Linked DNA regions of Homo sapiens: region 2 is linked to region 1. Evidence: fine-mapped expression QTL. A gene starts in region 1. The other region holds a variant in brackets. All regions are shown on one strand. Distances are from middle to middle. Region 1 holds the start of PCMTD1 (protein-L-isoaspartate (D-aspartate) O-methyltransferase domain containing 1). Region 2 overlaps PCMTD1 (protein-L-isoaspartate (D-aspartate) O-methyltransferase domain containing 1).

What was found. PIP is the estimated chance that this variant, and not a neighbour inherited with it, causes the effect. A credible set is the group of variants that fine-mapping cannot tell apart.
Region 2: its variant is the best candidate, but not a certain one, in a credible set for the expression of PCMTD1 in whole blood (INTERVAL, PIP 0.67).

What each region holds. Positions count from the first base shown.
Region 1 is chr8:51,896,671-51,901,062 of GRCh38, forward strand. PCMTD1 (protein-L-isoaspartate (D-aspartate) O-methyltransferase domain containing 1) reads right to left here and starts at 2,366. Exons shown (of 6, transcript NM_052937.4): 1 at 2,260-2,366. PCMTD1-DT (PCMTD1 divergent transcript) reads left to right here and starts at 2,645. Exons shown (of 4, transcript NR_189279.1): 1 at 2,645-3,176. RefSeq lists a silencer at 1,873-2,562 and enhancers at 2,603-2,892, 3,063-3,122, 3,423-3,482.
Region 2 is chr8:51,844,851-51,849,242 of GRCh38, forward strand. PCMTD1 (protein-L-isoaspartate (D-aspartate) O-methyltransferase domain containing 1) reads right to left here. Exons shown (of 6, transcript NM_052937.4): 3 at 811-913. Among named protein-coding and RNA genes, the nearest start is that of PXDNL, 38 kb to the left of the region's middle. The variant A/G (reference allele first, on the strand shown) is at 2,023.

The DNA.
Region 1 (4,392 bases):
ATCTAAAAAAATACCATTATAGTTTCACACTATATTCTCTAGACTATTTTAAATGCATGTGATTACATTCATGTAGTTATTCTGTAAGGAACATTTCAAAGAAAGCAGAAAAAACCGTAAGGGCAACAATTTTTCGTTCATAGGAGGTAAAACAAGAGCAGAAAACACAGGTTCTTGGATTAAGCACTCCTGAATATAAACACGCACTATTACAAAAAAAAAAAAAAAGCAATGGGATCTTGAGCAGTTCTTTTACTCAAAGCCTCTATTTATTACTCTATAGAATGAGAAGAATGTCATTTATGTTGTTATGAGAAATATATGAGCATATTATTACCAAAAATAACTAAAATGTCATGGATTTTTTTATTCCTTTCGAGCACAGTTTCCAAATCATAAAATACTACACAATTTGGCTTAAAATTTCAGGCTATGCATGTTTAGAACCAGACGTTGTTCGTGATTATCTTCCTCAGTTGTTCTTTCCCTGGAAGCTAGCACCAAGATGAACACAGTACATTTTTAATAAATACAAGCTAGTGATTAAATCAACAAAGCCTCCAGCTCTTCTGCACACAGAAATACAGTATGCAATGGGAATTTCCTAGCTTTCTGTCTTACTTAATAGTAGGCAGTGTAGTATCACCCCTCCACTTCCAGTTTACTCCCTATAGCTTACTTACCAAAATATTTAATCCCTGTTGCTTTTTTTTTCTTGTCTCAGGCTAGGGCCACTAGCTTTCTATCTTTCCTACCTTACCTTTCCTTCACATATTAGCTACTTCATGTTAAAGAAATTACAAGTGTTCAACTGACCATATGGAATTAAAATTTACTTAGAAAAAAATGAAATAAAAAAAACCAAAAAGTAAACTAATTCAGCAACTTTATGTTTTATGGAGTCATCTAGCCTCATGTAAACTACCATTAAGCAATACGTAAACATATTAATCTGCTTAATACGAAAGTAATGTCGTCTGGCCGCAGACATTCTGAAAGTTTTGCCACATTGTTTCAAAATATTGGCTTGTAGCCCTTTTCAAAGCTACTGATTATTGAAAACTTGGCGACCATGTTTAACAATGAAGAAAAGGCTTCCCCAAGCCTACGTAGATTGGATTCTCTAATACATAGTAATAATGTTTTTTAAAATAATGAGGTGTGTAATAAAATGGAGGAATATCCATGATGCATTGTTGGCTAATAAAACGATATACTGTACTATATATGATCCCAATCTTGTTTCTAAAGCACACTCATTAAATGCACAGAAAAAAAAAATCCTGAATAACTACCCACCACACTTGGAGACTGGCTACCCTGGGTAGTAAGAAGGAGAAATATGGGGGGAAGGGCGCGAGAGAGGGCAGGTTTCCTCATTGTTTGGCTGCTTCATGTTTTTCTCAAGGAGCAAGCAGTACTTTTGTAATTAAAAAAATAAATAGGGGAAAAACACTGCTAAAAGCATACTTTTTTCCTCCGTAGCAAATTCTTCTGATTTGTAATGTTAAAAATATATCTCTGGTTTCTCGATTCTAAAAAGAGGACACACGAAAACAAAATTATAGAAGTTCCAAAAAATCTTGGATTTGCAAAATTACTCCCTCGGGTTCTGCCCGTGGGTCCTCCCCATGCCGGTGTCTGAAATTCCCCAAGCAAAACGCGGGCACTGCACTTCCCCGGAACGGTAGTAGACGCTCAAAAACACAAAAAGAGGCCTTGGCGCCTGCTATAACCTCTCAGTCCCCTCCCAGCCCCCGAGACTTCCCCGAGTCTACGTAGACTGGATTCTCTGCCTCCAAAACCAAAACAGAAGTCACTGGGCGGATCCAAAACGGCCCTAAGGGGCCCGCGGGCATCTCAAGACGCCAGCCTCGGGACTCTGGTCCCCAAGCCCAGGTCAGAGCCGAGGACGAGCCGAGGACGGGCCGAGGACGCGGCGCCCCGGCCTCCCTCGGGCCCCCGACCTCCCCGGCCCCAGGGACCCCGGCTCCCGACCTCCAGGCTTCGCTGGGCCCCTTTCGACTCCCCGACCTCCCAAGTCCTCCGCCCCCGGCCCGTCCTTCCCCCAACCTGCCCCGCAGCGCCTCAGTTTCCTGGCCCCCGACCTGCCCGCCCTTAAGTCCCCCTGCCCCCGACTCTTCGGCTGCCGTCCCCCTGGCCCTCTGGCCTCCAAGCGCATCCCAGTCGCCCGCCCGGCCCTAGCACGCGGGACTCGCACACCCCACGACCCCGAGCCCCCACTGGCGGCGGCGTTACCTGTGGCGCGGGCAGCGGCGCGCAGGCCAGGCGCTAGGACTCGGCGGGGTCCGCAGCAGCCAGACGCCGCTACCACCACAATAACAACACGGACGCCACCGCCGAGTGGAGAGGCGGGGCCCGGACCCGCGACTGGAGCAGCCAGAGCCTCCCGGACTCCGGAGCCGCCGGGGTCCGGGCATGCGCAGAGAACCACGGGCACAGGGGCAGCTCCCCGCGGACGCCAAAGTCAACAAGGCCGGGAGACGCCCCCATCTGGCCCCGCCCCCCTCAGGGCTCGCTCCGCCCCCAAGCCCAAACAACGCGAGGCCTTGACAGGCCAGAAGACGATGGCGGTAGGGGAGATCACGCGAGAGCATGGCCTCCACCTCTCCTCCCCACCGCCATCTCCACGTTCTCGCACCGGCGCTGGGGTGCAGGCTTTCAGTGGTCTCAGGGCTACGGCTTGTCGGTGCCTCGCCGCACAGTCCCCTTTGCATTGAAGGACACGGTCTTACGGTGTAGGAGCATTTTTGAGGTGCATTCCTGGATTTGGAGGCGAACCCCCAATGGTTACCTCCACAGAGGCTTTGCGAAGGGCGCTCACTGACTTAGGTGAAGAGCGAAGGCTCAAGACTGTGCCGCTTTATAGTGGCCCCTTGACGTCCAGAAGTTCCCCCCAGCGCCGGTCATAAGCACTCCCGCCGCCTGGGCCCCGCCCTGCCTGCCAGGCGCCCTCCAGCCTCAGCTCCCGGACGCCCGGCGTGGCCGCTTTCTCGCGTCTTGCTGACCCGGGCCGGGGGCGTGTGCTCCTCCTGCAGCGGACGGAAGATGCTGGGCCACGCAAGTTTCCCTGGGCTTGGTTAACCACCCCAAAGCCCATTTCCAGAAGGAAAGGGTGTTGAGGAGGAGGGATAGAAAGTCGAGAAGAGGGCCGGGTGAGTGGCTCACGCCTGTCATCCCAGCACTTTGGGAGGCCGAGACAGGCGGATCACCTGAGGTCAGGACTTAGAGACCAGCCTGGCCTACATGGTGAAACCCCGTCTCTACTAAAAATACAAAAATTAGCCGGGTGTGGTGCCGTGCGCCTGTAGTCCCAGCAACTCGGGAGGCTGAGGTAGGAGAATCGCTTGAACCCGGGAGTCGGAGGTTGCAGTGCTGAGATGGCACCTGGCCTGGGCGGCAAGAGCGAAACTCCATCTCAAAAAAAAAAAGAAGAGGAAATGAGGCATAGGGGCAGGCGAGCCGGGAAAATATTGCTACTAAGGATCCTAAGCAGTGAACATGCTGTTAATACTTGTAAGACTCCTAGCAAACTGCATTTAATTTTTTAAATTAGTTTTAGTGTACATAAAGGCATGTCTTTTCCAAATACTGTACTTTTTGAAGTGTTCTTTGTTGTTCATTAATCTTTGTGCGTTTCCCTTCAGTCTCTAATAGTAGGTTGTAGCATGATTTGCTTCCATCGTGTGAATTCTGTTCGGTTTTGATTTTCAAGTATGAGAGTGAGCGTAAGCTACCCTTATAGGTTACCTAAGGTAAGTTAGAATTAGAACGTCTTTATGCTAGGGTTACTACTCCCCACCATAACCAACCATCTGCAAAAGCGTTCAGAAAGAACATGCTAGCAAGGTCAAAAGCTTCAAATCACGAAATAAGAACTTGAAAACGAGCAAAATTGCTGCTGAGGCGCTCTGCCATTTAACTCAAAGGCTTCACTTTATTTAGGTTTAAAGTATGAGTGCATATTCAGTGGACATTGAGCTCCGAACTGTTCAAAATCTCTATTCATCTGCATTCTGGAGTAGAGCTGCGGGTCACATTATTAGCTCCATCTTTGGATTTCTGCCTGGACCCAGGGCACTCCTAACCGTTGTGGGATCATATAACAATCTTACAGGATGAATTTTCTGTTAGTCCAAGCAGAAATTTTGGCACATGAAAACTATCTTACCATAAACAAACAAAAAAAGTACAAATGGTAATCTAAGGAAAATAGCTAAAATCATTAAACAACTCTTACAGCCGTTTCCCCTGTTTTCTCTCCATTTTTTAAAAGCATATTTTCCTTTACTTTCTTCCTTCTGCTATGGGAATTTTTCAGGGTTCTAGACCTTTTTTCTCTTCTGCGGCTGGAAAGTTAAACACAGGTCA
Region 2 (4,392 bases), 52 kb before region 1:
AGTTGAAATTCTCAGTGTTTTTGCCTAAAACTTTGTTCTTTAAAGTGACTGTTCTAAGCTTGTGTTTTCTATCCTTTTTAACACTTTTTCTCTTTGAAAATCAGATACACAGTGAAATGAGAGATGTAAAAGCTCTCCAAATTTTACACAATTTCAAAGAGCTCATGGATTTCAGCGTAAGTGCTCTTGCTCTATAGCAATGCAGAATTTTAGGATTACACACCAAATGGACTTTTCCTGCCAGCCCAAGGACCAAAGCCCGTGCAATGTTTCTTCTAAGAGGAGTTATATTGTGAGTTCAAAACAATGGTTTTATAAACCAATTTCTTATTAACAATCCTATCACAAGATATATCAATGTATTTCTATGATCATTTCTTCTGGATATATTACAAAGTAGCTGAATATGTTAAAGTCCTTTGTATACTGACTGGTACCACCTCTCATGTCCTGAAGAGGACAGAACTACTAAATTACTATCCAAAAGGTAAAAAACCAGTTCCAGACAAATATTGCAATCACAGCATTATTACACTGTATCTCCAGAAAAGATAGCTGAATGTTTAATGAATTCAACATTACTAATAAAGTTGTAGTAGCAAAAAATCACATTATTTATAATTTACTATAGAATTACATATAGTAAAAGTTATACCACAGAATAATCTTAACTTTTTCTCATTTTATGGTGCACTGATTTTTGCTGCATTCAATTGAGCCAGTCAGGATCAATAATAGTGTTCAAGAATAGACATGTTGCATGTATCTATTAAGTGATTTTAAACCAAAACTATAGATATGAATACTTACTTATCAAAGCTATCACTATTTTTGATGAAGCTCTCCAGTTTTTCCTTGGCATATTCCACCACATCTGAATGAAGCTCAATCCCATGATTTATTCCAAAAGGACCTGCAATCGTAGCAGCATTTTTATAAAAAATATTAATAATATGCCCTTACAGAGCTCTTTTTTAAGTTCTGCTCATTTATACATCACAGGAGTATTTAAAGATGGCTTGAAATATGCAAATACTTCCTAGCCTCAGACTTAAAAGTTGAATGGAAATCCACGTACATTGCTTTAATGTAAAAAAAGGGGAAAAAAAAAAGTTCGCCTGAGTTTTCTATCAAAAACTACTACCAGGGATAAGGTTGAAACCTACAGAGTTCTCCCAAGAGAGTAGCTTATCTGGCAGGACAAAACTGCCAAAAGAATAGTATTTCTAAGTGAAGTTTAAGTTACTTGCTATTATTTTATCATTTGCTAAAAAATTGGTAATTCAAAATACCTAAAACCATGGGCTAACACAGATATTACATGAATGTCTCAGGGCATCGCTACCCCCAGCCAGTAGAGGCTAAATTCCCACCCCACTCCATGCCTTTTGGAGCTCCCAGTGCCTAGCAGAATGTGGCCATTGGGCAGCATGCTGGACTTGACTCTCATGCTCCAGCATCTTTTACACTTCTCACTTAGGCTTTCTCTTTGCATATGCCCATGGACGGACTACCTCCCAGGAAAAGGGGAATGAATAGAGGAGAGTTTTCCCAGCCCCGAGAGATGTTATTGGGCTGGCTCTTTTCCCTCACCCTGAAAATACGAGGACTCAGTGTCTCCTAAGGCTACTGTACATACATACTAACCTGCCCCATGACCCACATGAGAATATAACACACAAATTACAGTTAGTCCCTTTTCAACTTCTGAAATTCAGCCAACCAGGTTTTCCACTCAACATTTTTGTTTCACTTTGACATTGGTCCTGGAAGGTGTCTTATTTTCAGTATCTTTAGGAAATACTTAACTGGATGTGCCCTCTACCAAATGTCTAAAACAACAGTGCATATTTGGATTGTTTCTACTGACCATTAGGTACTTTTAACCAAAAAATCACAATCATAAATTGTCATGTTTGAATGTTGAAACAGTACATGTAAAATATGGTTTGCCATCTAGGAAATATCCAAACTATAAAAATTTAACCAAAATGTTCAGATATAATCTTAAACCCAAAATCC[A/G]ATAAGGATAATGCCTTCCCCTACTATACTTTTATAAAAACATTGCTTTTACTTGAAAAATGTGTTCCAATAGGAAAAATAAATAAAAAGGTGCTTGATTCATCAAACCACAACAGAATTAACTTCCTTTGCAATGTTTTTACATTTTATAAATTGTCCTGGTTAAAGCAATGTCAAACTTTTTGCTTGTTTCCTTCCTTATGAACTCTTAGCCTTCAACTGAAAACTGGAACGTCTGCCCAAAATCATTTATGACTTCTTGTAATTCCTATTACTCCAGATAAACTGAGTAAAACTAAAATTTTTATATTCAAAATAATAAAGCAGCCAAAAAATTAAACTTAGAAAAGCACAGTGACTTTTCAATATATTAAATGTAAATATTCTGAGAATTTGAATTTCCATAGATGTCAACATATAAAATGTTTTAAAAAACCAAATAGTTTACCTCATTTAAAATAATTCAAATACAGGCAGGATGTGGTAGCTCATGCCTGTAATCCCAGCACTTTGGGAGGCCAAGGCGGGCAGATGGCTTGAGCCCAGGAGTTCGAGACCATCCTGGCCAACATGGCAAAACCCTGTCTCTACTAAAAATACAAAAATTAGTCAGGTGTGGTGGTGCACACCTGTAATCCCAGTTTCTTGGGAGGCTGAGGCTTGAGAATTGCTTCAACTCAGGAGACGGAGGTTGCACTGAGCCAAGATCTTGCCATTGCACTCCAGCATGGGTGACAGAGCAAGACTCTGTCTCAAAAAAAGAAAAAAAAATGAAATAAAACTACACTTACTTAACATTATGTACATAGTAAGAAAAATACTATCCTATGACATAAACCTAATTTCCCTTTCTTCCTTTTAGGGTGATCCATTGACTATAAAACATGAGATGTTTACATTTTCATTATCCATTAAGAACCAAGGGCCAGGCACGGTGACTCACACCTATAATCCCAGCACTTTGGGAGGCCAAGGTGGGAGGATTGCTTGAGCCTAGGACTTCGAGACCAGCCTGGGCAACATGGCAAGGCTTCGTCTCTACAATAAACTAAAAAAAAAGTAGCCGGGCTTAGTGGTGCATGCCTGTAATCCCAGCTACTCGAGAGGCTGAGGCAGGAGGATTGCTTGAGACCAGGAGGTAGAAGCTGCAGTGAGTTAGTTGTGTTGCTGCCATTGCACTCTGGGCTGGGCAACAGAGAGAGACCGTGGTTTTGTTTGTTTTAAAAGAAGAAAGAAAGAAAAAAGAGAAAGAAAAAAATCTGGTTACATGTTTATAAAAAAAGAAAAACCAGGGCTGCATAGATAGGAGTTCAATTGAAAAGGTTAATATTGCTGGCACTCTTATGTTTCCTATAAGACTCTTATGTTCCTGCCACTACAATCCGGGCTGGGCAACAGAGTGAGACCGTGTCTTTAAAGAGAAAAAAAAGAGAAGAGAGAGAGAGAAAAAAAATCTAGTTACATTTTTATGAAAAAAGAAAAACCAGGGCTGCATAGATACGAGATCAATTAAAAAGGTCAATACTGCTGGCACTCCATGTTTCCTATAAGACAGAATATATAAATATAATAACAAAGGTGTTAAGAATCTGTAATCAAGGCTTCTAATCCATAGTTCAAACTGCATTATTAACAGAAAGAATCTGAATTTCAAAGTTCTAGGCTCTCAGTTAAAGACGCCACTGGTCTCTTTTTCGTTTTATTTTTCCTGCTTTCTGCTTATTATCTAAAAGCAAAGTGTCAACTTTTGCAAATAAGCTTAAAGAAAATTTCTTAATTTTTTTAAACATAACTTGTTTTTCATACTACCTTGACACAAGATATTTAATAATGAAAGATAAAGACAATTCATTAATATGTAAAGAATTTGACAAACAATATAAATATACATGCAAAATATGCTATGCATTAATACTGAATTGTAAACACCATTTATGATTTTTTATAGATGAAACTGTTTAATTTTCAATGACATGGAGGCACATCTTTAATGATCACTACTTAACAATATGAATGGTAACTAACATGTTCAAAGTAAATTAAAAAGAAAAATGCATTAATAAAAGGCAGAATTTAAATAGCAATGTCACCAATATCTCATTTATTTAGAATGTGATATACACCTTGAATGCATTAAGTGTATAAAAATGTAATGCAATGCTGATTATTACAACTCACATTTGGTATCTGTATTAAATAGAACAACAGGAAAATAAAACAGAAAACTGAAAAAGCATACATAGCTGCTTCTGAGAAAGGGGACTAAGAGATCTAGGGTGGTAAGGAAACATTTTTATCATTATATGCTCTTGTATAAAATTTGTTTTAACCATTTGCGTGTATAACTTTTTCAATTAAAAAACAATGGGC